4 linked regions of the Homo sapiens genome follow. The protein of the gene in region 2 purifies or fractionates together with the protein of the main gene of each other region. This does not show direct contact. Each region holds a gene or a part of one and is shown on either strand. Other genes may lie near its edges.

Evidence for each region.
Region 1: the proteins of TUBB2B (region 2) and TBCD purify together in Homo sapiens (affinity purification with mass spectrometry; 3 studies listed by BioGRID and IntAct, with this or other methods). This does not show direct contact.
Region 3: the proteins of TUBB2B (region 2) and EML1 purify together in Homo sapiens (affinity purification with mass spectrometry; 3 studies listed by BioGRID and IntAct, with this or other methods). This does not show direct contact.
Region 4: the proteins of TUBB2B (region 2) and CCT3 purify together in Homo sapiens (affinity purification with mass spectrometry; 3 studies listed by BioGRID and IntAct, with this or other methods). This does not show direct contact.

The regions. Positions count from the first base shown.
Region 1 is NC_000017.11:82,747,660-82,755,066, forward strand, and holds the start of TBCD (tubulin-specific chaperone D), read left to right. Parts: upstream 1-4,405; 5' UTR 4,406-4,534; coding exon 4,535-4,718; intron 4,719-4,832; exon of another isoform or gene 4,833-5,095; intron 5,096-7,407. Other genes in the region: FN3K (fructosamine-3-kinase), read left to right, coding at 1,196-1,318, 2,758-3,096.
Region 2 is NC_000006.12:3,224,623-3,231,538, reverse strand, and holds the start of TUBB2B (tubulin beta-2B chain), read left to right. Parts: upstream 1-3,885; 5' UTR 3,886-3,995; coding exon 3,996-4,052; intron 4,053-4,869; coding exon 4,870-4,978; intron 4,979-5,269; coding exon 5,270-5,380; intron 5,381-5,727; coding exon 5,728-6,788; 3' UTR 6,789-6,916. UniProt on the Homo sapiens protein: Tubulin is the major constituent of microtubules, a cylinder consisting of laterally associated linear protofilaments composed of alpha- and beta-tubulin heterodimers.
Region 3 is NC_000014.9:99,796,400-99,803,435, reverse strand, and holds part of EML1 (echinoderm microtubule-associated protein-like 1), read right to left. Parts: intron 1-7,036. UniProt on the Homo sapiens protein: Modulates the assembly and organization of the microtubule cytoskeleton, and probably plays a role in regulating the orientation of the mitotic spindle and the orientation of the plane of cell division.
Region 4 is NC_000001.11:156,308,468-156,314,292, forward strand, and holds the end of CCT3 (T-complex protein 1 subunit gamma), read right to left. Parts: intron 3,755-5,825; coding exon 3,574-3,754; intron 2,729-3,573; coding exon 2,483-2,728; intron 2,223-2,482; coding exon 2,091-2,222; intron 837-2,090; coding exon 732-836; 3' UTR 501-731; downstream 1-500. UniProt on the Homo sapiens protein: Component of the chaperonin-containing T-complex (TRiC), a molecular chaperone complex that assists the folding of actin, tubulin and other proteins upon ATP hydrolysis.

The sequences.
Region 1 (7,407 bases), on a different chromosome or scaffold from region 2:
AAGTGTTGGGATTATGGGCGTGAGCCACCAGGCCTGGCCTTCCTATTGATTTCTAATTGAATTTGATTATACTTTGCATGCTTAAATTCTTCTCAATTTATTGAGATCTGTTTGCATGGAGAGAGAAATCCTACTCTATTCCTCTTCTTATAGGCCACTAATCCTATTGGATTAATAATTCACCCTTACGATTTTATTTAACCCTAATTACCTCCTAGAGGCCCTTCCTCCAAATACAGGTATATTAGGGGTTAGGGCTTCAACGTAGGAACGGGGGTGGGCACCATTGAGTCAATAGCAGGATATGGGATTTATCTATTTTTCCTGCAGTTCTTTTACGTATTTTGAAGCTGTGTTATTAGAGGTGTAGGCATTTAGGATTATTATGTTCATTAGTCGACTCCCTTTGTGAAATGACTATATTTGATTTTCTTTGCTTTGAAATCTACTTTGTCTTGTATTAATGTAGCCACTCTAGCTTTCTTTTTTTTTTTCTTTTTTTTTTTGAGATAGAGTTTCACTCTTGTTGCCCAGGCTGGAGTGCAATGGCGCGATCTCGGCTCACTGCACCCTTTGCCTGTGGGTTCAAGCGATTCTCCTACGTCAGCCTCCCAAGTAGCTGGGACTACAGGCCCACGCCACCATGCCCGGCTAATTTTGTATTTTTAGTAGAGATGGAGTTTCCTTATGTTGCCTAGACTGGTCTTTAACTCCTGGGCTCAAGGGATCTGCCCACCTCAGCCTCCCAAAGTGCTGGGAATTGCAGGCGTGAGCCACTGTGCCTGGCCTCCAGCTTTCTTTTGACTAGTGTTAGCATGGTATATCTTTTCTATCCTTTCAAGCTTTTTTTTTTTTTAGTAGATAATGTCTTTTTGCACATAACTTATTGTTGGATTTGCTTTATTTTTCCAACCTGCCAATCTGTCATTTACCAAGAGTATTTATTTTTGACATTCGTATTTAATGTGCTTAGTCATATAGTTTTGAGTCTGTCATCTTGCAATTTGTTTTTTGTTTCATCTGCCCTTTGTTCTCTCTTTACCTGCCTTCCTCTGGGTTGAGTATTTTATGTTTCTGTCTTACCTCCTTTGTTGGCTTACTAGGTATCTTTGCTGGGTTTTGAATGGTCCCTCTAGGGTTTAGGCAGCACTTGGCTCCGAATTGCAACAGTGGCCTCTTTTCCCTTGTTGTCCAGGTGAATGAGTGGCAGGATGACTGGCCGACCTTTTTCGCCCGGCACCGGCTCCAGGCGCAGCTGGACCTCATTGAGAAGGACTATGCTGACCGAGAGGCACGAGAACTCTGGTCCCGGCTACAGGTGGGCACGGCAGTGACTTCTCTGGGAAAGAGCTGGTCCTCTCATGATCCCGCCGCATTTGTGCGGGTTCATCTGTAAAACGGAGCTGGAGCAGGGAACACTGAGTCCTGGAGCACACATCAGGGAGGAAGGGGGGCAGGGGCGGGGGTTCCCCCAAAAGGGAGTCCGAAAGGAGTGAGGAGTGAAGACACACTTGGCTCCTCGTGCCCCTCTCCACTGCTAGGTCACCAGGTATTTAGCCTCAGACTTTCCTCATGTGAAACACAGGTGCTTGTAAATGGTGGTGTTTACCATGATTACTGTTCTTACTATCAGTAACACTTGTCCACTCCATCGTGTTCCTCTCCCATGGGAAGATGTGGGTACCAGATGATCCAGAATGACTGATTTCAAAACATAACTCTCGGCCGGGCACAGTGGTTCACGCCTGTAATCGCAGCATTTGGGAGGCCTAGGTGGGCAGATCACTTGAGGTCAGGAGTTTGAGACCAGCCTGGCCAACATGGTGAAACCCTGTCTGTACTAAAAATGCAAAAATTAACCGTGCATGGTGGTGCATGCCTGTAATCCCAGCTACTCAGGAGGCTGAGGCAGGAGAATCACTTGAACCCGGGAGGCGGAGGCTGCAGTGAGGGGAGATTGCACCATTGCACTCCAGCCTGGACGACAGAGTGAGATCCTGTATCAAAAAGAAAAAAAATCAAAATATAACTCTCAAAATGTTAAAAAAGAATGTGCATGTCAATCCAGAGTGAGTATACATCAAAGAGACTTGAACTCATTAATGAAGAAACTAGGCTGGGCACGGTGGCTCAAGCCTGTAATCCTAGCACTTTGGGAGGCCGAGGTGGATAGATTTTACCTGAGGTCAGGATTTCAAGACCAGACTGGCCAATATGGTGAAACCCCATCTCTACTAAAAATACAAAAATTAGCCGGGTGTAGTGGCGGGTGCCTGTAATCCCAGCTACTCAGTAGGCTGAGGCAGGAGAATCACTTGAATCCGGGAGGCGGAGGTTGCAGTGAGCCGAGATGGCGCCACTGCACTCCAGCCTGGGTGACAGAGCAAGATTCCCTCTCAAAGAAAAAAACAACAAAACCAAACAAAACCTGCAGACATATATGTGTAGCGAAATAAAAGTGGCCAGAGTTTGCTAAGGTAGCGCAACACTGGTTCCTATTCTGTGGGTCGATTAAAACTATAACCTCAGAGGTTCTCCACTGTGTGGGGATTCTAGACCTAAATTAGGAGGAAATCCTAAGTTAGACAAAGCTAGACTCCCCTGAAGTCAGGTGGCCCCTATTTCTGGGCTTGGCAGGCAGTGCTGGGGCTGGACACCGAAGCAGATCGCGAGTGGGCTTTGCCTTATTTCCAAGAACGAGGTGATGAGACCGGGGCTCCCAGAGGCCAGCGATAACTGCAGCCGTTGCTCTCGTAGGTGAAGATCCCGGATCTGTTTTGTGGCCTAGAGATTGTCCCCGCGTTGCTCCACGGGGATCTCTGGTCGGGAAACGTGGCTGAGGACGACGTGGGGCCCATTATTTACGACCCGGCTTCCTTCTATGGCCATTCCGAGTTTGAACTGGCAATCGCCTTGATGTTTGGGGGGTTCCCCAGATCCTTCTTCACCGCCTACCACCGGAAGATCCCCAAGGCTCCGGGCTTCGACCAGCGGCTGCTGCTCTACCAGCTGTTTAACTACCTGAACCACTGGAACCACTTCGGGCGGGAGTACAGGAGCCCTTCCTTGGGCACCATGCGAAGGCTGCTCAAGTAGCGGCCCCTGCCCTCCCTTCCCCTGTCCCCGTCCCCGTCTCCGTCTCCCCGTCCCTGTCCCCCCGTCCCCCGTCCCTGTGCCCCCGTCCCTGTCCCCCTGTTCCCGTCTCCCCGTCCCTCCGTCTCCATCCCCCCGTCCCCCCATCCTCCTGTCCCCGTCCCCCCGTCCCCGTCCCTCCATCCCTGTCCCCCGTCCCCCTGTCCCCCTGTCCACATACCAATCCCCCTGTCCCCGACCCCCCATCCCCGTCCCCCATCTCCGTCCCCGTCCCCCCTGCCCCGTCCCCGTCTCCGTTCCCCCGTCCCCATCCTCCATCCCCGTCTCCCATCGCCGTCCCCCCGTCCCCGTCCCCCGTCCCCGTCCCCCCTGTCCCTGTCCCCCTTCCCCCGACCCCTCCCAGATCCTGGGGACCAATAAAGCCCGCAGCGGGTCTCGGCTGGCGTCCTGCGCCTCGTTCCTCCGCTCGTGGGGCTGCTTTCAGGGCCAGACGCACGGCGAGCTGTGCACGGACGTTTTTGCGGCGATTCAGGGGAAACGCACGCGGACCCGGTAGCCAAGGCCAAAGTCGGCGCAGCGCCCACCGCGGCCTCCGGGCCCCGCTCCCGCTCCCGCTCTGGGGCGCGCCACCACTCGGCGCGGGGCCCGTGTGATCCGCGCGGGTCCCAGCGTGGCGCGAATAAGTGTCAGGGCGGTTGGCTCTGAGGGGTGGGTCCCGGGGCTCGCCTCGCGCCCCCGACTGCGTGCTCAGGCCCCGCCCCTCCCCGTCCACGCATGCTGAGGCTCCGCCCCGCTCCGCGGTCCCCCGGTCCCACCCGCCCCCGCCCCGCCCCCGCCCCGCCCCCCGGCGTGTTGTGGCTCCGCCCCGCTGTCTCCGGCCCCACCGCAAGCCCTGCCCCTCCCACCCACGCGTGCCCGGGCCCCGCCCCCGTTGCGCGCAGCCCCGCCCCCTATCGCGTGCTCAAGCCCCGCCCTGGCGGCCCCCGGCCCCATCCCGAAGCCCCGCCCCCCCGCACACCGCCTGCTCAGGCTCCGCCCCGCTGTCCTCCGGCGGCGGCCTCACCCCGCAGCCCGGCCCACCGCGTCTCAGGCCCCACCTCCTGTCCTGCCCCGCCCACCGCGTGCTCAGGCCCCGCTGAGCGGTCCCGGCTCCGCTCGCGCCCTGTGGGGTCCACGGCGCGCTCTTCCAGAGCCTTTGGGACCCGTGCCCGCTCGCGTCCTCAAGTGCACGCGCCGTCCCGCGCGCGGTATTTTGGCGGCCGACGCGTTCCGTAGCGAGGCCGGCGAGTGGGGTCGGAGGTCGCGGGGCGGGGCCAGCGTCGGTTGCCGCCTTAGCGGGCGCCTCCTTTTCATCCCTCATCCTTCATCCCTGGCTTTCGCGCTCTAGCGGAGTGGGATCTGCGAACACGTGAGGCGGGGGCGCGGTCCCCAGGCTGCCGAGATGGCCCTGAGCGACGAACCGGCCGCGGGCGGCCCCGAGGAGGAGGCGGAGGACGAGACACTGGCCTTTGGCGCGGCGCTGGAAGCGTTCGGCGAGAGCGCGGAGACCCGGGCGCTGCTGGGCCGCCTGCGGGAGGTGCACGGCGGCGGCGCGGAGCGCGAGGTGGCCCTGGAGCGGTTCCGCGGTGCGTGGGCGGCGCCGCGTGCCCGCTTCCTCCCCCGGCCCGGGTTCGGCGCGCTGAGTGCACTTTACCGGGCGGGGACCGCAGCCCGGCGGCGCCGGCCGCTCTGCGAGGGCTGCCGGTGCGCGGTCCCGCGGGCCGTGGTGGGGCGCGGCCTTCCTAGGCGGGAGAGGGCCACCCCGGCGCGGCGTTAGGTGCACGGGGCAGACGCGCGCCTCCCTTGGGGGGACCGTGGCCCGCGGAGCGCCTGCTCTCGCACGGGGTGAAGCCTCTGCGGCCTCCCCGGGAGGCGGGGTGCAGAAGCCCTCCGTCCCCCGTCTCCGTCACTGGAGGAGGTCCCTGGGCTGGGGAGACTCGGGCCAGACCCCTCCGGACAGCTGGTCAGCCCTGCAGTGTGGACTCCCAGGCTTGCCTCCACCGAGCGCGGTTTCTGTGAATGTTGTGTGGACAGGGAGATAGGGAATGAGAGAGGGGGACGCAGGGAACAAACCTGCTGCAAACAAAGCGCGCCTCGGGTGGGGAGGGCAGCAGCCTGTCCGTTCCGTGGACGCCGTGGACAGAGCGGGCTGGCCGGGTCCGTGCCTCTGCAGGCGGGGTGGGGTGTAGGTACCCCTGTGGAGGCCATTCGATGAGTCTAAATTCTCCGAGTTCAGACCCACCTTTACCGCTGTCTATAATGGGTTATTTCCAAACAAGTCCTTAGGAGCTCATAGCTAAGTAGTTACATGGGGTTTTGTAATTCAGTAAAATCATCTTTGTAGACCCTTTGAGTAAGAAGAACTTTTGCATTATTTGGCCTTCCTCATTTTAGAATGACAGCGCTTTGATTTTAGGAGTCAGGCAGGGTGGGGGGCCTTGTGGGAGGAGTGCGGGTTCGGCGTCAGATCCTCCTGCCTGTGAATTCTGGCCCTGTCGCTTGGACCTGATACTTGATTGCCTGTTTCTTCGGGTGTAAGCTGGGGCGGATAACGATGCCTCTCGTGCAGAACTGTTCTGAGGGTGAGGGACCCTCATCCAGGGACCAGTGAAGCCAGATTTTTTGTTCCTGGTGTAACAGCCCAATGGCTTCTTCCTTTTTTTTTTTTTTTTTTTTTTGATACGAAGTCTTGCTCTGTTGCCCAGGCTGGAGTGCAGTGCAGTGGTGCGATCTTGGCTCACTGCAACCTCAACCTCTCAGGTTCAAGCTATTCTCCTGTCTTAGCCTCCCGAGTAGCTGGGGCTACAGGCGCGCGCCACCACGCCCGGCTAATTTTGTATTTTTAGTAGAGGGGGTTTCACCATGTTGGTCAGGCTGGTCTCAAACTCCTGACCTCAAGTGGTCGCCCGACTCAGCCTCCCAAAGTGTTGAGATTACAGGTGTGAGCCACTGCGCTCGGCCCCAGTGGGTTCTTTCTGCGGGCTGCCCAGATAGAGTTGATTTGTCAGGGCAGGGGAGTTGCCATGGAGAAGATTTAGTTCACGCAGAGCCGGTTGAAAGGGAGACTAGACTAGAGGTTTTTTTTTTTTTTTTTGAGGCGGAGTCTCACTTTGTCCCCCAGGGTGGAGTGCAGTGATGAGATCTCAGCTCACTGCAACCTCCACAACCTCCACCTCCCAGGTTCAAGTGATTCTCCTGCCTCAGCCTCCCGAGTAGCTGGGACTACAGGTGCGCGCCACCACGCCCACCTAATTTTTCGTATTATTAGTAGTGACGGGTTTCATCGTGTTAGCCAGGATGGTCTCGATCTCCTGACCTCGTGATCCACCCGCCTCAGCCTCCCAAAGTGAGCCACCACGCCCGGCTGGAGTTTTATTATTACTCAGATCAGTCTCCCTGAGAATTTGAGGGCCAGGGTTTTTTAGAGGTAATCTGGGGGAAAGGGTGGGGGTGGCTGATTGGTTAGGGGTATACAATCATAGGGGAGTCGGAAATGATCCTCCGTGATGTGCTGAATCGCGTCTGCGTGGGGCCCCAGGAGCAGTGGGCGGGTCCAGGTGGAGCTATCATGGGTCCGTGGATCCTAGTGTAGGTGTCAGACATGGAAACAATCTGAAAAGATATCTTTAAAGGCCAGTCTCAGGTTCTGCAATAGTGACATGGTCTGCAGGAGTAACTGGGGAACTCGCATGTCTTGTGATCTCAAGAATAATGGCTGGCAATTAGGTTACGCCTTAGCGGAATTCAGGCTCCTCTCCTCCTCCTAGCCTGGTGGCCTCTCATTAACTTTACAAAGGCAGTTGAGTTTTGGGGAAGGGCTCTTAGCATTTAAACTATAAATTAAATGTCTCCCAGAGGTAGCTTGGCAGCTTGAAGACTAAAGGCATGAGGGGGTTGCCTGGATCAGATCTGCCCCATTGCCATAATTTCCTCACAGATCACTTTTGCAAAGGCAGTTTTGCTGGGAAGCAGTGGGTGTGTTCAGATGTGGAGGTGGGAGCTGCCGGATTGGACAGAAGCAGTTTCAGCTGCTGAGAGGAGGAGAAAGCGGTGGTTCAGGGTCTGGGAGGTTGTGAAGAGCTGGCAGCTGTGTGGAAGGGAGCAGTGCCTGGATATGTCAACCAAAAAGTATCTGAGACGAGTCTCAATCAGTTTAGAAGGTTAAGGGTGTGCCCGTGAGGCAGCCTCAGGAGGTCACATGTCCCCAAGGAAGTCGGGCTACAGCTTAGTTTTACACGTTTTAGGGAGACGTGAGACATCAATCAATACCTGTAA
Region 2 (6,916 bases):
CGCTGCGTTCGTGGGCTCGGGGTTTTCGCTGCTGGTTCCAGCTTTTGGTTGCCCTGCTTGGCTGGTCCCTGCGGGGCCCACGGCTGCGGAAGGACAGGGCTCTGAGGCTGCCACCCCGCAGCCCCTGCGACTAAACAGTGCCGGGCAGCTCCGCCGGGGCCGCTGGCTTCCCAGGCGGAGGAGGGAAGGCCTGGGGGGAAGGGGGAGGGCAATGGAATAGAAACTGGGGAGCGACAAAGCTGAGAAGGCGCAGATCTTGGCGGATCCCGGGAGCTTCCTCCACTGTGTCCTTTCCGCAGTCACAGTATGGGGCTGCGACCGCTTCCTAGCCCCCATGCCCCGGGCATTTGGCTCTTTTACATAAATGCTAGGATTGGTAGCTTTCCAATATTTCTAAATGGAGAGCTATGAGAAGAGGTGATGTGTGTGTGTGTGTGTGTGTGTGTGTGTGTGCGTGTGTGTGTGTAAGGAAATAATGATGGATTTGCAGTCTCTTTCTTTCAACTCCTCTTCATTCATTGGCTAAGTGTCGGTTGCCTAGGAAACCGCGTGCATCTCGGCTGCAGAGCCAGCTATGGGGGCTGCGGGCTGGGTTTTTGGGGTTTTAAGCGGTGAATCCTGGCAAGCAGTGAAGAACCCTAATGCTAAATGTCTAGTAATTTCAATAAATGTGTCAAAAATATATGCTACATTATGAAAACAGTGCTTTAAAAATTTACTACTATATAAAGCCTCTTTTCTATCAGACTTCTTCAAACAATGACTGTGTGTGTAATAGAGAAATGCAAATTCACTTGAGGACATGCCGTTGAAAGTAATCTGAAAATTGTGAAAGCAAATATAATTTTAATAGTTTAAGGGATATCTTGCTCACCTCAGTCACGCAATAGATTACGTATAAAACAAATGTTGAATTGTATTTTATGCAGCAATATTTCTACAATTGTCTCTGGAAGGGAAAATTTTTAAATGTTAGTACATCATCAAGACTAACATTAAGAGATCATGAAATATGTTGCCCCGAAATCTTCGTGCCTGATATACGATGACCTAGATTGAGACGCATTGCATATAATGAATAGACAGAAATGCTGGGGACCCAACTGAAAACGACTTTTTTTTTCTTTGAAAGCCGGGTACCAGTCTCTTTATGCGAGCTACATGGATTAAGAATGATTTTTTTGTTTAAGGGTTATCAGATAAACTGAAAGACTTCAGGGAAAGGTGTGGCTGTTGTCAACATTTTAACACAAAATCGGCTCCTTGTGAAAATAAAAATGTGCAGCATCACAATTCCAGTGGGGGTGGGGGTGGGGGTGCGATGTAGACCGGTTAACAAGACTGGCTGCCCGGAAGGGGCAGGGGTGTGGGGACAATTCGAGCAAAATGCTTGAAAGGAAAGCAGATCTTGGGCCAAAAGTGTCCCCAAGGGCACTCTGGGCTTTCAGAAGGATGATTTCCAGCCTCATCCTATCCCAAACCAACCCCTTTAAAAGAAACCTGAGAGGAAAGGGTCTTTTCATCTATCTATATGATCTTGAACACGCGTTTTCACCCGGGCACTGAATGGAGATTTGGCTCGGAAACAGAAGCTGAGAAATGAATTGGTTAGATGAAGGAGGCAGGCGGCCAGCTCAAGTTACTCAGCATGGAGCTGAGCGGCCCCCAACCCCACCCCCCAGCGCTGAGCATCAGGGTTGCTCCTGGGAGCTCGCAGCGAGGGGGTGACCGCTCCGAGTGTGTCTACACTCGCCGCGCGGGTGCCGCCCTAGCTCTGTTCCTTCCGGCGCAGCTTGGTCCCACCAGAGCCGCCACCTCGAGGCTGACACCTGCCACAGCCCTTTTGGCCGAGATGCGGTCACTTTCCCTGAGGTCTGGTGTGCCCAAAAGACGAGATTCCAGTCCGAGCCCTGTCCTCAACTTGCTGTATGACCTTGGGAATTGCTAGCCCTCGACGTTTCGGCATCTGCAGGATCTGGATTAGAAACTCGGAGGTCAGGCCCCGAGACCTTGGTACCGGGAGAGCAGGGCATGTGGACAGACCCTCCGCTGCTCTCTGCCTCTCGGTAGACCCCACCCTCACCCGGGCACGCCGGCCGGGTCTGGAATACCGGCCGGCGAGCTCCAGTCTGGGCGCCCTGGATGTTTGGGGGCGCCTGGGCTTTTGTTCTCGCTACTTCTCTTTGTACATTGGAATCGACTTGAACCCCCCACCCTCCACCCCACAGCGGGAAAGGGAGGCGATGACAGCTTGCTGATAGTTCTGGGAGGGTCTCGCTCAACAGCTGCAGGCTGAGCTCCGCCGCGTGCGCCCGGGTCATTCGGCCTTTCTCGCCAGGGGATGAAAGAGGTCACGTCACCTCGCCAACGGCCCTTCCGAAGTGTGGGGCGGCGCGCTTCAGTCATCGAATTGCAGGGAACAGGTTGTGCAGTGAACGTTTCTGACACCCTTTCCCCTCCCGCCCTCAAACGCACGCAGGATTAGTCTCTCTCTCTCTCTCTTTCTCTCTCTCTCTCACACACACACACACACACGCGCGCGCGAAAAGTAACAAAGAGACCAGTTCCTGCCTCAGTACCTAGAGACTGCGGATCTGAAGGGAGGGTCTGTGCTCCAAGTCTGTGCACGCGCTCGTGCGAGTGCGCGTGGGTCTTGGGTCGTCTCGCGCGCGCTGGGCTGCAGTTTTTAGTCGTATTCCCCACCCTTCAACCGCAGCACGAAGCCTCGGACCTCCAGGTCGCCGCGATGGAAGATAAGAAAGTTTGTTACTCGGGCTTGGGCCACCCTTGGAACCCACCCTCTTACTTGACAATAGATGAACTGAATCCGAGGGCGGGGTGGGGGGGTGGGGCGCCTGTCGTGTGGTTTTAAATACTGGGTTACACAGCGTATCCCACGTTTCTGAGAGCCCTTTGTTCCGCCGACAGCCCCGCCCCCGGGACCCCACCCTCTTTCTGCCCTCCGGACGGTCAGTGCAGCGCCACCGGCCACTCCCACTCCATCACTAGCGAGCAACAAAAGTCAACCCCCGGGGCAGAGGGCTCCTGGGTACCAGCAGGGGCGTTATGCACTCCCGGAGAGGGTCGGGCAGGGCTGAGGGGCTCCGAGGTCGCTTCACCCCTAGATGCTGCGGCGCAGTGAGAGGAGCTACCAGCCCAAGACAGACAAAGGAGAAAGCAGGCCCACGCTGGGGCGGGGGCGGAGGCCGCGCTGGTGTTCATGGGCCGCAGGTGTCCCGGTTGCCATCAAGCACGACTTCCTTCTGGGGCCACCTGTCCTCCCCCAGGCCTCTGTGAGACGGAGCGCCGCCTGGGCAGTCGCTGGCCTCCAGGGTTGAGGAAAAAGACGGTGGTCTCACCAGGGGCAGTTGGCTGGAGGGACTCTGGCCAGTGGCCGAGTAGGAGCCGCAGTCCGAGGTGGCGGAGCAGCCTGTGCCACCTCAGCCCTCCCACCTGCCGGCACTGGAGCACCTGACGGCTTCTCCACATGCTCCAGTCCTCCATCGTTCCCATCCGGTGCCAGCTCTGCCCCCACCCCGGTCAGGACGCGCTGGTGGCCCTCGCCTCGCCGCCCTCTCACCCTCCTTTTCTTCACTGTTCCCCCATATCCCCATACCCAGACCCCCACCACAGCCCCAGACAATGCGCACGCCCCCACCATACTCCCGGTAGCCCCCACCCCTCTCCCGGTCGGCACGCCCGCTCTGATTGGCCGCGGGCCGGTGGTCCAGCCCCCCGGACGGTCCCTAGGGCTCGGAGCATTACGTCAGCCGGGCCTGGAGAGCGCCAGCGCGAAGGGGACTGGGGGGCTCGGGCTGGGGGCGCGGCCTGTGCCGGCCGCCCCACCCTCCTTGCATAAAAGCCGGAGCCCGCGGGGCCGGCGCTCTCAGCCCGTCGGTTCCCGAGCGCCTTCCCGGTGACCCCGCAGTGGGTGTGTGAGGGGAGGACGGACAGACCCAGACGCCGCCGGACCAGGAGGACGCTGACGAGGCACCATGCGTGAGATCGTGCACATCCAGGCGGGCCAGTGCGGCAACCAGATCGGCGCCAAGGTGGGCGCGCCGCAGCGGAGGGGGTCCAATGGGGGCGCGAACCTGGGCCGAGAGCCCCTCGGGGTCCCCAGGCGCGGTCCTGGGAAGGCCTGGGGATCGCCAAATGCAGACCTTCCTGGCCGCTTTGTGCCGCCGAGTGTGGCCTGGGCTAGGAGGTGACTTTCGCGGACGGAGGGGGCACCTCTCTTTCTTTCTGCTGTAACTCATTTGGAGTCCCCGTCACCCCCTCGGCCTCCCTCCGCGCTGGCTGCTTGGCAGGCACGCGTGCCTGGAGAAGACGAGGGTGTGTCCGCGAGGCTGTGCGCGGCGCTCCGCGCGAGGGGCTGGGACACCAGGAGGATTAATTGTACTCGCTTGAACCGGAGTCGAGCTGCCGGGGGAGGGGAGGAGAGCGATTGTCTTGCGGTCTCAGGACGTGCTTTGAATCTAAAACCGCGGTCCTTTAGCTCCTTTGCGTTCCTCTTTCCCCGCCCACCCGCTCCTGGCGGGCTGCAGTCCCTGTGCCCTCGCCTCCTGCCGCAGCCTGGGGCTGCGACCAGTGCGCCAAGCTCCGCCACTGCCCGGCTTTGGCTGGTCCTTACCCCCTCGACCCCTACCTCCCCCCGCGAGCGGCAGCTGTTTGCCTGGGAAACGCCCAGTTTCAACTTTCTGAACCTGCAAAATACAAGCCCCGCGGCTGTGCCCGGGTCACGACGCCCTTTAAAGCTTCAAGCTCCTGAAATGTTGGGTTGTCGGAACTGAGTCGGGGACATTTCATTGTGAGCCTTGGCGTTTCTGGGGGCATCGTTCATGGCTAAATGCAGCCTTTCTGTCTCAGTTTTGGGAGGTCATCAGTGATGAGCATGGGATTGACCCCACTGGCAGTTACCATGGAGACAGTGATTTGCAGCTGGAGAGAATCAATGTTTACTACAATGAAGCCACTGGTAATCACCCTTGCCCCACCCCCACTCCCTTCAGTTTTTCCACCTTCTCCCCTTTCCCTTGCGTGGGACCCCAGGGGTGTGGCCCTGGGAGAGGGTGGACTATTCAGTTTAGGATCCCCGCTCTTTCCCTGCAGTATTTCATTGGGCTTCCTTATGCCAACAGAGCCCTTTGAGAACCTGATGGTGGGTCTCCCTTTGTTTGGGGCAACATCTGCATGATGGCAGCAGGCGCCAAGCCCTTCTCTGCAGAGGTCCTTGCCTGAGGGTCTAAGTCACTGTTGTTCCTTGCAGGTAACAAATATGTTCCTCGGGCCATCCTCGTGGATCTGGAGCCAGGCACGATGGATTCGGTTAGGTCTGGACCATTCGGCCAGATCTTCAGACCAGACAATTTCGTGTTTGGTGAGTGCCTGGTGTGGCTGAGAGCATGAGGGATTCATTTTACGCTGGGCAGTGGAGGCTGAAGAGGTGTGATTGCCAGAGGGAAAGCATGAAGAACATCCGCGGTGTGCCAACTTAGCTTTAATATAGTGTAAAATTGTTTGCCTTTCAGCTGCTAAGAGCTTGGTGTCCTGGCCTTCCTTATTTATAATTATATTCATGAACAAATATTTTAACGTTTGGCCATTTTGGTGATAATCTGAAATAGTCTTATCTGAGCATTGACTCACTGATCTATATTGAGGGGTTTGAGGTAAGGTATTTAGTACAATCACCGGTGACTTAAGATTTCTCTTTCCCTCTGGCAGGCCAGAGTGGAGCCGGGAATAACTGGGCCAAGGGCCACTACACAGAGGGAGCCGAGCTGGTCGACTCGGTCCTGGATGTGGTGAGGAAGGAGTCAGAGAGCTGTGACTGTCTCCAGGGCTTCCAGCTGACCCACTCTCTGGGGGGCGGCACGGGGTCCGGGATGGGCACCCTGCTCATCAGCAAGATCCGGGAAGAGTACCCAGACCGCATCATGAACACCTTCAGCGTCATGCCCTCACCCAAGGTGTCAGACACGGTGGTGGAGCCCTACAACGCCACCCTCTCGGTCCACCAGCTGGTGGAAAACACAGATGAAACCTACTGCATTGACAACGAGGCCCTGTATGACATCTGCTTCCGCACCCTGAAGCTGACCACCCCCACCTACGGGGACCTCAACCACCTGGTGTCGGCCACCATGAGCGGGGTCACCACCTGCCTGCGCTTCCCGGGCCAGCTGAACGCAGACCTGCGCAAGCTGGCGGTGAACATGGTGCCCTTCCCTCGCCTGCACTTCTTCATGCCCGGCTTCGCGCCCCTGACCAGCCGGGGCAGCCAGCAGTACCGGGCGCTCACGGTGCCCGAGCTCACCCAGCAGATGTTCGACTCCAAGAACATGATGGCCGCCTGCGACCCGCGCCACGGCCGCTACCTGACGGTGGCTGCCATCTTCCGGGGCCGCATGTCCATGAAGGAGGTGGACGAGCAGATGCTCAACGTGCAGAACAAGAACAGCAGCTACTTCGTGGAGTGGATCCCCAACAACGTGAAGACGGCCGTGTGCGACATCCCGCCCCGCGGCCTGAAGATGTCGGCCACCTTCATCGGCAACAGCACGGCCATCCAGGAGCTGTTCAAGCGCATCTCCGAGCAGTTCACGGCCATGTTCCGGCGCAAGGCCTTCCTGCACTGGTACACGGGCGAGGGCATGGACGAGATGGAGTTCACCGAGGCCGAGAGCAACATGAACGACCTGGTGTCCGAGTACCAGCAGTACCAGGACGCCACGGCCGACGAACAAGGGGAGTTCGAGGAGGAGGAGGGCGAGGACGAGGCGTAGATGCCCCCGCGAGACGGGTTAGGGAAAGCGGAGGAGGAAAGCGAGGGGGTGGGGGGCTTCCCGGGACGATAACCTGGCAGTGGAAGGAAAGAAGCATGGTCTACTTTAGGTGTGCGCTGGGTCTCTGG
Region 3 (7,036 bases), on a different chromosome or scaffold from region 2:
CTGAAGGGTAGAGTTCAATGTCACATGTGTGCATGTGTGTATAATGCACGTAGATACGCAGGTATACATACAGTTATATGCACATGTGGTATATACTATACACATTGATACACGTTGTTTCAAGCACACAGGGAAGCGGTGGGCGTGCTTTATTTGGCATGCACCTGTCACATGTGTGGCATGGTGCCTGGTGGCGCCTGGTGCGTGTGTTTGAGGAGGTGCTATAAGATAAATAAGATGGACCCTGAATCTATTCAACCACCTTTCACCAGGAAACTCACCACGTGCCAGGCACTGCTGAGGTGCAAAAGACACAGAGACGATCCCAGGAAAGTCTGCCCAGAGGAGCTTATATCTAATGGGAGACTGAAAATAAACCTCCGTGACAGGCCTCTGGGATAATCATGATGACAGAGGTTTATACTAAATACCACATAGCCACCGACGAAGGAAGGGCACCTGGGGGCACTCAGGGATGAAGATAAGTGGGGCCCTGGGTGCTAAAGTGGGAGGGAGGGCTGCTGTCAGCTTTTAAACAGGAGGCCATTTTGCCTGGATCTGTCTTGCAGGAGGCACATTCGAAATGTCTAATTTCCCCTGGGTGAGCTCATCGGTGCCCATGGATCCCATTACTATCTGGATGCTGATGGCTCGCAAATGTTATGTCCAGCCCAGCCATCTCCCGGGCTCCAGACCTTCACCGACAGCCTGCTCAGCACCTCAGCTTGTATCCCATATGTCCTCCTACCCCACAAGCCCAAACCACCTCCCCCGTGGCCTGGACTGCCATCTCTGCACAGGCCCCCTGGCCTGTCCTGCCATCTCCAGTTGCAGGCATCAGAGACCTGGGCGTCAGCCTTGATTCTGCCCTCTCCCCACTCTTAATGTAAATACAGGATGTTACCCACTAAGTATCTCCTGCGTCTTGCTCCCAACACCCCGCCCAGGGTGAATCACCATTGCCTCTCCCTGGGTTACTGCCATGGCCCCCCACCTCTACCCTCCTACCTCCACCCTGGACTGCCCTTCCCACCTGCCCTCCCCCTGGAAGCAGAGTGATCTTTTAAAACAAAAAATGTGAACAAGTCGCTCCCTTGCCTCAAAATTCTCCCCTGTATTCCCACTGCTCCTAGGAAGAAGACCAAACTCCTTACCATGTCCCCAAAACACGCTCCCAGTCCTACTGCAAGCCACGCTACTCCTTTCCCTTTCACCACAGGCAACCTTCTTTCAGTTCTCTAAAGGTTCTTTCCCACCCAGGGCTTCTTAGACGCTTCCCTGGCCCGAATGGCTCTCCCCACTCCCACCTACCCGCCTGCAGTGAGCAGACTAGAAAGACGCTCTCACGGATGCCTCTCTTAGGAAGCCCGCCCTGATACATGCCCCCCAGTGCTGCAATACCCTACCATTGTTCCTTACACTTCTTAGAACAACCTATCACTGTTGTCATGAAGTGAGTGTGAAAATAACACTGGATGTTTAGCTCCTGAGAAACAAATTAGGCTTCCTAAGGCTAAGGACCATGTCATCCTCGCATTTCGCTGGAACCCCTAAAACAGTGTAATAATGGACGCTGTGAGTACTTGAGTGCTTGTTTAAAGGAACGGATGGAAGACTAGAGTTAGGAAGACTGCTTTAGGTCTGCTGCCAAAACCAAACCCAACCCTAGCCTAGATGAGAACTGATGAGGGCCCGAGCCAGGGAGGAAGGGATGGATGATGAGACGTTTGGGGTGCAGAATCCACTGAGCCAACTGAGATATGGGGCAGTGGGTAGAAGAGTCTAAAATGATTACTAGGAGAATTTCTTTTTTTTTTTTTTGAGACGGAGTCTCGCTCTGTGGCCCAGGCTGGAGTGCAGTGGCACGATCTTGGCTCACTGCAAGCTCTGCCTCCCGGGTTCACGCCATTCTCCTGCCTCAGCCTCCCGAGTAGCTGGGACTACAGGCGCCCGCCACCACGCCCGGCTAATTTTTGGTATTTTTAGTAGAGACGGGGTTTCACCGTGTTAGCCAGGATGGTCTCGATCTCCTGACCTCATGATCCGCCCACCTCGGCCTCCCAAAGTGCTGGGATTACAGGCATGAGCCACCGTGCCCGGCCAATTACTAGGAGAATCTAATGTTTACAGGGGAGACTACATTTTTGACATGTTTAATTGTCCTACGCCCACTGTAGGTATTCACTGGAAATCAGCCCGATTTGCCAAACGGACTCAAGTCTCTCCATGAATATTCGCCTAACCATTTCTATCCTTGTTATCTTTAACTGTGGGCTGCCCATTGTCCTTCAAAGGTTATTTGTGGGAAGAATCTGCAGTCCAGGACGGTGGGTCTCCCTTACAGGGGCTTTGCAGAGTGAAGGGTACCACCAGTCCTGGACCACACCATGATAAATGCATGGATCTGGCCGCTGGCCTCAGGGGGCCAGTCACCTCTGCTTCCCCTCCCTCTGACAGCAGGGCCTCGGCAGGTGGGAAGGTCTCCTGTAAGACTCCCTACCTCGGGCAGGCCCTGGGCTTGGAGTAAGTGCCCTCAGGCATCACCCAAGTCTATAGGTCGAACCTGCCCCTACACTGTGGGGATGGTTTATTAAAGATAGAGAGTTTAAATATTTTCCAGAAAGCTGGCAGAATAAATAAATGACTGCATTTTAACACACAACTGAGAGTACTCTGCAAAAAATGGTTTTCCCCGCCAACAGTATTTGCCAGTAAAGGTAGAACCTTAGAGTAAACAAAAATGGAAATGTATCTAACTAAACTGAATCTTAAAAATTAGCTGGGTGCAGGGGCTCATGCTTAATCTCAGCATTTTGAGAAGCCAAGGCAGGAGGATCTCTTGAGGAGAGTTCAAGACCAGCCTGAGCAACAAAGAAAGACTGCATCTCTAAAAAATTTTTTTAAAATTTAGCCAGGTGTGGTGGCGCATGCCTATAGTCCCAGCTACTCGGGAGGCTGAGGTGTGAGGATTGCTAGAGTCCAAGGGTTCGAGGTCAGTGAGCCATGATCACACCACTGCACTCCAACCTGGGCAACAGAGTGAGACCCTGACTCTAAATAAAAAATAAATAATTAATTAAACTTAAAAAAAAAACAAGTCCTTTAAAGAAAGAAAAACTCTTCTGAAGAGGTATTTCTTAAAAAGTAAACCAAAGAGAGTATGCACTTGCTCCTGCTGACACCTTCGCACACCCCCAGTCCTGGGCCAGATTAAAATGAATGTGCAGCCTTCAGCAGAAATGAAATCTATGTGCCAAACGTCTAGTGAGAAAAACATGAAGCTGGGGGTGACGGGTGGTATCAATAATAATTATACAGCTTTTAGAGTTTACAGCACACTTTTTGTTTGTAATTAGTAATGCTTCTGAAGGTGTTTAAAAATTTTGCTAATACTAGAAACCCTCTATTAATGAGCTTGATAAAATTTTAAGGATGAATAGTTGTTCCTGAAAGAAATTTTTGTAAGGAGTACAAAATGCCACTGATTTTAAGTCCTTGGAGAGACTGTCTTACTAGAGAGAGCAATGCTTTCATGTTCCGTTTTCAATGTTATCCATGATGAAGGTTTTCACGCTACTAGTTTTATAGCATGAACAAGCTGTAACACTAGAAACAAAGATGTTATTTCTCCTCTCTTATCCAACCTCCACTCAACTAAAATGTTTTTTAAGAGAATATGTGAAAAGGTTTACACTATCCCAGAAATGGACAATAACCAATTAATGGTTACTTTTTAAGCACAGTTTTGTGATTTTTTTCCACCAAAATGCGTGGGTTTGTTTATAATGTGATAAATGGTTGTGGTTTGGCTATAAGTTCCTTCCTGGCTGGAGCACCAAGTATACTAATTAGAAATTCTCGCTTAGCGTGGGTGCTTTTGCTTTGCACTTTTCCATGAAAGCGTTTTCCTCCGATTTTGCTATCACAGAATGCCTCAGTCAGTCTTCTGTCACTGCATGAGAATGCAAAAGAGGCCTGAAAATACTTCGGAGCGTTGAGTTTGGATAATTTCCTTACAGGTGTTCCTTTTAAATCCAACTACTTGTTTATAACCATCGAGGTGTCAACTTGAAAATCCTGCTGTAATCATAGTTAAGAGAATGTCATCAGTATTAGAGATGTCAAAAGATGTTTAAGATTATTAAATAAATTATTGTTAATTTCCAAAATATAAATGTTTAGAAATTAAAACAACATTCCATTGCAAAACTAGAAAAAATAAACTTCAGTCGCTCAAAGGATTATTATAGTGATTTCAAAATTTGACTGGGCAGGTCCCATGGACTCGACCCGCTGTAGTTACTAACAAGTAGCACCTGCAGGAGAAGAAGCCAGGCCAGATCTGGGACATGGCAGATACGCTCCAGTCAGGCCTTAGAGGGCATCTGATAATTCTCTCATGACACCTTCCAAGGCAAGAAGAAAAAAGGCTATTAACCACAATCACAACCCTGTAAGGCAATGGTCAATTTCAATGTTACTATAATGCTGAAATATCTTAGTAAGTGCTGGGATTATTTATAGCATTACAACACAGATTATAATGGTGTTGTAATCTGATAGGGCTCTGCCTGTTCGAGGAAACTTACCCTCAAAAAAAAAAGGTAATTAAATTTAAGAAAAGATTTAGCCATAGTACATGTAAAGTACACAAGAATTTTACTTGAAAATCAGTAAAAGGTAATAATGTGATGTGACAAGAAATGGAGTCTATATAACCTTAGGCTGCATTATTAGAAGTATAGGCCAGGTACAGTGGCTCATGCCTATAATCCTAGCACTTTGGGAGGCTGAGAAGGGTAGATCACCTGAGGTCATGACTTCGAGACCAGCCTGGCCAACATGGTGAAACCCCATTTCTACTAAAAATACAAAAATTAGCCAGGCTGGTGGCACACGCCTGTAATTCCAGCTACTCTGGAGGCTGAGGCAGGAGAACTGCTTGAACCTAGGGGGCGGAGGTTTTAGTGAGGCAAGATTGCACCACTGCACTCCAGCCTGGGCGACAGAGTGAGACTCTGTCTCGAAAAAAAAAAAAAAAAAGTATAGACTTTGGAATAAGGGAGGTGACATATCCAATTCTAATCTTCTTTGTGTAGAAAACATGCCTGGAATACCACATTCAGTTGTATCAAGTTAAGAAAGAAATACAGACAAAAGGAAACAGGTGTAGATGAAGCAACCAGGATGATTAAGGGTCTAAAATTACGTCTTAAGAGCTAGAAGATGTGAGAAAGAACTATAATCATTGTCTTCAAACATGTGATGACCTAATATATGGATAAGATATTAAACCTATTCTCTACGGACCCAAGGAACACAACTTCGGCTGATTTTTCACTGCTTGTAGGAACTGACAGTCTGAACTGTCTGGAGAAAAAATGGATTGCCTGGAGAGGTAGTTACTTTCCAGTCTCTTGAAAATGCTCATGCACAGGTTGAACAGCCTTTCTAGCTTTGAACAGCCTTTCCAGCTTCCCCCACAGGGCAGAGATTTCAAGCTGGAGGGGTGGGGGAAGGAGAGGAGGGCCAAAGCACCATCCTCTCCCCACTCCCTGTCAGCTATGCCAGCTCTGTATCTATCTGCTTTACCATTGGGTTCCTGGGTAACCTTTACTTTGAAGAAACAGCTCAAAGGCTTAAGAAAGTAAACCATGAGATGAGATTACTTGCCAGGTCCGTTCAGGCACTGAGATTCTTATAACCTGTGGCAACCACGTGCAGTTGTGCACTGACTCGTTTTGGTGAGCTGTGATTGATCAAAGGATCCAAAGGACTCATGGAAATGCATGAGCAACATTTTGTTACTTGCTCCCACTTCTTTCCCTCTTTCATCCATTTCCTTAATTACTTATTCTTTTATCAAAAATGTATAATAAAACAAGCTTAATATTTAGGTTTCAAAAAGTTAAGACTGGTTCCTAAAAATGTTAAGCCCAGAGTTACCATATGACCTAGCAATTCTGCTCCTAGATATCTGCCCAAGAGAAATGAAAACATAGGTCCACACAAAAATGTGCATGTGAGTGCCCATAGTAGCATTATTGATAAGAGTCAAAAAGTGGAAATAACCCAAATAACCCATCAACAAGTAACAGATTTAAACAGTGTGGTATCTCTCCACAAGGGAATATAATTTGGCCATAAAAAGGAATGGCATGATGACACAGGCTACAACATGGATGAACCTTAAAACATATGCTAAGTGAAAGAAGCCAGGAACAAAATACCAAACATTCTATAATTCCATTTAAATAAAATGCCCAGAATCTATAAAGACAGAAAGTAGATTAATGGTTGCCAGGGGTGAGGGCGATGGGGGAACATGGAGTGACTGCTAGTAGGTACTAGGGTTTCTTCTGGAGTAATGCAAAGGTTCTAAAATCAGAGAGTGGTAACAACTGGACAATTCTGTGAATATACTACACGCACTTAATGGTACACTTTAAAAACACATTTTTATGGTATGTAAATATTTCAATAAAGCTATTACTCTCTCACACACACACACACACACACACACACATACACACACAAAGATTTAGACTGGTATCCAAGCCCTTCCTAGTTCTGTGGCCTGATAAAGTTGCCAAATCTCTTCGAGCCTCCGTTTTCTCAGGCACAAAGGAAGGATGGTAACACCACCTACTTCAAAATGAGGCCTCGAAGAAAATATGGAGTTATTTCCCAAATCATAAATTGTCTTATAAAGGATAGCTACTGTTCACTTTTTAAAACACTTCAGGTTTTTTTTTTTTCCCAGCATTAAAAGAAGTTTGTGAGCTGGGCATGATAGCACGCACCTGTAGTCCCAGCTACTTGAGAGACTGAGGTAGGACTGCTTGAGCCCCAGGAGTTTGAGTCTGCAGTGAGCTGTGATCATGCCACTGCACTCCAACCTGGGTCACAGAGCAAGGTGTGGCTCAAAGAAAAAAAAAAAAAAAAGCTTGTGATTTCTAGCTCACTTTACAGATTTCAAATACTCTGAAGAAAACAATGCACACATTTTCTGCTTAAATGAGAAAGACAGTTCCTG
Region 4 (5,825 bases), on a different chromosome or scaffold from region 2:
AGAGGTCTGACTGTGACAGGATACTGGCATGAGAAAAGGTCAGCAAGCCAAAATGAAGACTGGAATTGTAAAAACATTGGAAGAGGGCAGAGAAAAATAACTCATGGTAAAGGGAGAATTCTGAAAACTACACCAAAAAAAAAAAAAAAGTTATATGTCCTTTAGGACACATGCCAGAGCCCTAGGATGTACTGGGTGTTCCTCTACATACAACCACATATGGGGAACACCCATGCTTTAGACAGGTTCCTCTTGTTCTTTGGGCAGTGAATGCAAAATGGTGCTTTGTAAGCTTTACAGTATTATCCTTTGAACTCCAAAAGGGTCTTTCCAACCAAAATTTACTGAGAAGTCTGAAGAATACTCCCTCAAGAAGGCAAAAGAGTCTAAATGCCCTCATTCCAGGTCTCCTTTCCCTCCCCAGTAAGGTTTTCTGCCTCCACCTATTTGCCAGGAGATAAGAGAGATGGCCCAAGGTTGAAAAACACATAACAACTTTCTCAAATGACTTAGATTTAATCATCGGAAGCAAACTAAATGGAAACCTTACAATAGAGAAGAATTACATGTCAGTGTCTTTTGGAAAACTGAGCTGGGACAGAAAGGGACTGGGGGCTGCCCCCCAACCTGATCCCTTCTGAACAAAGACGTCCACAGTGTTCCTGGCACTCTGGCTCAGGAAAAGGGGAGACTCTGCTGGTTCTGTGCATTGAAGTAGCCTTGCCTAGCACTCACTCCTGGCCAGCATCAGGAGCCCCGCCTTGCCGGCTCTGGTCATCGCCTTTCTTTTTGTGGCCTGAAACGATGTCATCAATTCGCAGTAGCAGAACTGCCGTCTAGGAGAAAAACCACAGATGCAAAGAGGTCAGCAGAGAAGGAAAGGACACTTTTCTTTCCTTTAGATCTATCACCTAGATGCTACTATGGAACTGCCATTTTGTCTGAAATCTACCTTTTCAGTCTTTTATTTTTTTTTGAGACGCAGTTTCCCTCTTATCACCCAGGCTAGAGTGCAGTAGCATGATGTCGGTTCACTGCAACCTCCGCCTCCCGGGTTCAAGCGATTCTACTACCTCAGCCTCCCAAGCAGCTGGGATTACAGGCCTGCACCACCATGCCTGGCTAATTTTGTATTTTTAGTAGAGATGGGGTTTCCTCATGTTGGTCAGGCTGGTCTTGAACTCCTGACCTCACGTGATCCACCTGCCTTAGCCTCCCAAAGTGCTGGGATTACAGGCGTGACCCACCATGCCCGGCCTTTTCAGTCCTGAATGTAAAATGCAGTTCTCAGCCAGGTGTGGTGGCTCACACCTGTAATCCTAGCACTTTGGTTGGTCAAGGCAGGTGGATCACAAGGTCAGGAGTTCGAGACCAGCCCGGCCAACATGGTAAAACCCCGTCTCTACTAAAAATAGAAAAAATTAGCCGGGTGTGGTGGCAGGCACCTGTAATCCCAGCTACTTGGGAGGCTGAGGCAGGAGAATCACTTGAACCTGGGAGGTGGAGGCTGCAGTGAGCGGAGACCATGCCACTGCACTCCAGCCTGGGCAACGGAGCGATAGTCTGTTTCAAAAAAAAAAAAAAAAAAAAAAAAAAATGCACTTCTCCCTAAGCAAGTGATACAGATTGTGCTATATTATCTTGCTTTTAGTACGAGCTAAAGATAATTAAAGAGATAGAATGCCTTGGAATACCTTAGAGGAATATTCTGCCTTCTTTACCCCTCCCTTCAAGACTAGACCAGGCTGGGCATGGTGGCTCATGCCTGTAACTCCAGCACTTTGGGAGGCCAAGGTGGGTAGATCATCTGAGGTCAGGAGTTCGAGACCAGCCTGAACAACATAGTGAAACCCTATCTCTACTAAAAAATACAAAAATTAGCTGGGAGTGGTGGTGCATGCCTGTAGCCCCAGCTACTTGGGAGGTTGAGGCACAAGAATTGCTTGAACCCGGGAGGCGGAGATTGCAGTGAGCCGAGATCACACCACTGCACTCCAGCCTGGGTGACTGAGACTGCGTCTCAAAAATAAATAAATAGATAAATAAATAAATTAATTAAAACAGCGTGTACATATCTTAGGGTGCCTTACCTCCACTGCTGTCTTATAAGTCTGCAGCTTCACAGCCAATGGCTCCCATATGCCCAGTTCCTTCATGTCCACCAAAGTACCCGTCTCACCATTTACACCCCAGGTCTCACAGTTCTCCTGGGTGTGCTTGGCCTGCAATTGAAGCAAGAAGTAAAGGGGAAAATAAGTTAACAGGAAACATCAGGTAAGAAATGAAGTAAAAAACAATGGACCAGTATGGAAGGGACAGGGAAAAATGGCAATGACAGCAAACAAGTCAAAGACTAAAAGGAGAGAAAGATTTCAAGGAATAGACTATAAAGAGAATTTGGATAGCCAGATAAGAATCTTCCCCTCAGGGCAAACACAGCTTTCCCTGCTCCATCAAGAGAAAAGCTTGGAGAGGAACTCACCCGAAGGGAGGTAAGTAGACGGATGGTGCTGGCCCCACAGTTCTGGATCAGGGTACGAGGAATGACCTCTAGGGCCTGGGCAACAGCCCTGTATGGCCATTGTTCCACACCAGTCATGGCCTTGGATTTTTCTGTCAAGGCATGGGCCACAGCCATCTCGGAGGCCCCACCCCCTGGCACCAGCTGAGGGTCCAGGAGAACATTGCGACACACTTGCATGGCATCCTGGAGGTTGCGTTCTACTTCCTTGGAGAAGCAAACAGACAGTATGAAGCCAAAGCTTGATGACTCATAAAATCGGAGGCACCAAAAGGACTTCCTAACTGCCAAAGTTAGTAAACCACCAAGGAGGGCAACTAGAAAAGGTCCTTGGAACCCCTACTGGGCAGGGCAGATTATTTACCTGAGAATATATAACACACGACTATAATATAGGATGGCGGGGAGTGGTATCTGCAAAGGGTTTGGGGGTGTCACCCAACCATAAAGTTAGGTCTTTGTCCATTATGCTAGATTAAGAGCAATAACCTATTTCATCCCTTGCCAGTTATATGGAAATAAACAGCATGTATCTTGATAGATAAGAGCCATAACCTATTCCACCCCTTCCTAGTTGTATCTTTTAGGAGGTTGCATGGTGTTGTACACTCTCCTACTTACTAGCTATGTGCCTTTGGGAAAGTTACTTAGCCTCAATGAGGAAAAAAAAGTAATATTTATAACTTCAACGTAAAAAATAAGAAAACAGTTGTTGCTAGGGAGTAGGAGATGAGATATCTTGTTTGATGGGTACAGAGTCTCAGTTCTGCAAGATGAAAAAGTTCTGAAGATCTCTTGCACAATAACATGAATATACTTAACATTACTGAACTGTACAATTAAAATGATTAAGATGGTAAATTTTATGCTTACTACAATTTTTAAAATTTTAAATTATTTAATTAAAAAAAGGAAGCAGAAAAGGAATTTGTGGCTATAGGTCCAAATTAAATAGCTATAAATGGACCACAGAATTATTTTAGGCCCTTTGGGAAACTCTCAAGAAGTTCAGTGATCTACTTCATCTGGTCATACATCCAAGGCTGACTCACCGAGAGAATCTCTTTGCTAGCCCCCCGGAGGAGAATGGTGCAGGCCTTGGGGTCTTTGCAGTCAGTGATGAAAGTAAAGTATTCATCTCCAATTTTCTTGATTTCCAACAGGCCTGCTCCTGTTCCAACATCATCTTCTCTCAGTTCCTCTGGTCGGCTGACTATCCGGGCCCCACAGGCTCTAATGGACGGAAGAGGTGGGGAGAATCAGATGATTTCAGATACTTGTACCCATTTCCCTAGTCTCTAGGGTCTGTAGCTAGGGATAAGGGCAAAAGTGGATTGTTGGAAACATCACTTAAGAGGTCTTGCCTGTCCGGTGAAAAAGATTTTCAGGGGGCCAGGCACAGTGGCTCACACTTGTAATCCCAGTACTTTGGGAGGCCAGGCAAAAGGATTGCTTGAGCCCAGAAGTTTGAGACCAGCCCGGGCAACATAACAAGACTCTGTCTCTACAAAAAATAAAAAACTAGCTGGGCACAGTGATGCATACCTGTAGCTCCAGCTACTCAGGAGGGTGAGGTGAGGGATCCCTTGAAACCATGATATCAAGGATGCAGTGAGCTGTGACCATGCCACTGCACTCCAGCCTAGATAACAGAGTGGGACCCTATCTAAAAAAAAACAAACACAAAAACCCCAAAAAACAACAACAAAAAAAACTGAAGCCATCATTGCAGTTACAGCAGCACTGCAGCTATGCCAGCAGCTGTGAAAACCCTGTGCTTTTTGAGAAATATACCTATTAATCTCATATTGAAAATGCAGGTTTTATATAGGTAAGAACAGCATACCTATATACACTAATATGATTTGAAAAAATGTGAAATCATTATGATACCTCATCAGAAAAGGAAGGTGAAAGATCTAAAGCTGGAGAATTTAATGCCAGCAAAGGATGGTTTGATAATTTTAGAAAGAGGTTTGTTTGGCTTTTAAAATGTCAAGATAGCAGGAAACAGCTTCTGCTGACCAAGAAACAGCAGACATGTTCCCAGATACCATTAAGAAAATGATTGAGGGCTGGGCTTGGTGGCTTACGCCTGTAATCCTAACACTTTGGAAGGCCGAGGTGGGTGGATGACTTGAGGTCAGGAGTTCGAGACCAGCCTGGTGAAACCCCGCCTCTACTAAAAATACAAGAAAAAATTAGCCAGGTGTCATGGCACACGCCTGTACTCCCAGCTACTTGGGAGCCTGAGGCAGGAGAATCACTTGAACCCAGGAAGCAGAGGTTGCAGCGAGCTGAGATTTCACCACTGCACTCCAGCCTGGGTGACAGAGTAAGATTCTGTCTCAAAAAAAAAAAGAAAAAAAAAAAAAGAGAGAGAGAGAGAGAGAGAAATCATTGAGGAGAAATGGTATCTGCCTAAATACAATTTTAATGTATATGAAAGCGACCTAATCAGGAAGATTATGCCACAAATGACATTTATTAGTAAGAAAGAGAAGGGAGCACCAGGATTTTGTGCAAAGGAGTTAGCCTGTCCCTTGGGCAGTCAAGTTTATGTCTTGTAGTGTACAACCAGGCCTGGACAACAAGAATACTTTTTCTGGATTACTTCCATCGATGCTTTGTCCTTGAAGTCAGGAAGTACTTTTCCAGAAAGGGACTGCCTTTTAAAGTGCTTCTGATATTGGACAATGCCCCTGGCTACCCAGAGCCCCATGAGTTCAACACTGAAGACATTCAAATACTCTAGACCACACAGTCAGAGAAGGACCTGTAAGGCTTATTACACATGGTACTTCATGTAAAGAACCGTCGGCTGGGCACGGTGGCTCATGCCTGTAATCCCAGCACTTTGGGAGGCCAAGGCGGGCGGATCACGAGGTCAAGAGATTGAGACCATCCTGGCCAACATGGTGAAAACCCGTCTTTCCTAAAAATACAAAAATTAGCTGGGCATGGTGGTGCGCACCTGTAGTCCCAGCTACTCGGGAGGCTGAGGCAGGAGAATCGCTTGAACCAGGAGGCGGAGGGTGCAGTGAGCCAAGATCACACCACTGCACTCCAGCCTGGCAACAGAGCGAGACTCTGTCTCCAAAAAAAAAAAAAAAAAAGTCAACATTATGAAAGAGAACCCCAACAAAGAGAACATGATGAAAATATGAAAGGATTACATTACTGAAGATGCCACAGTTGTTATAGATAAAGCTTATGAAAGCCATCAAGCCCAAAACAATAGATTTCTGCAGGAGCAAACTGTGTCCAGATGTTGTACATGACTTCGTAGGATTTATGACAGAGC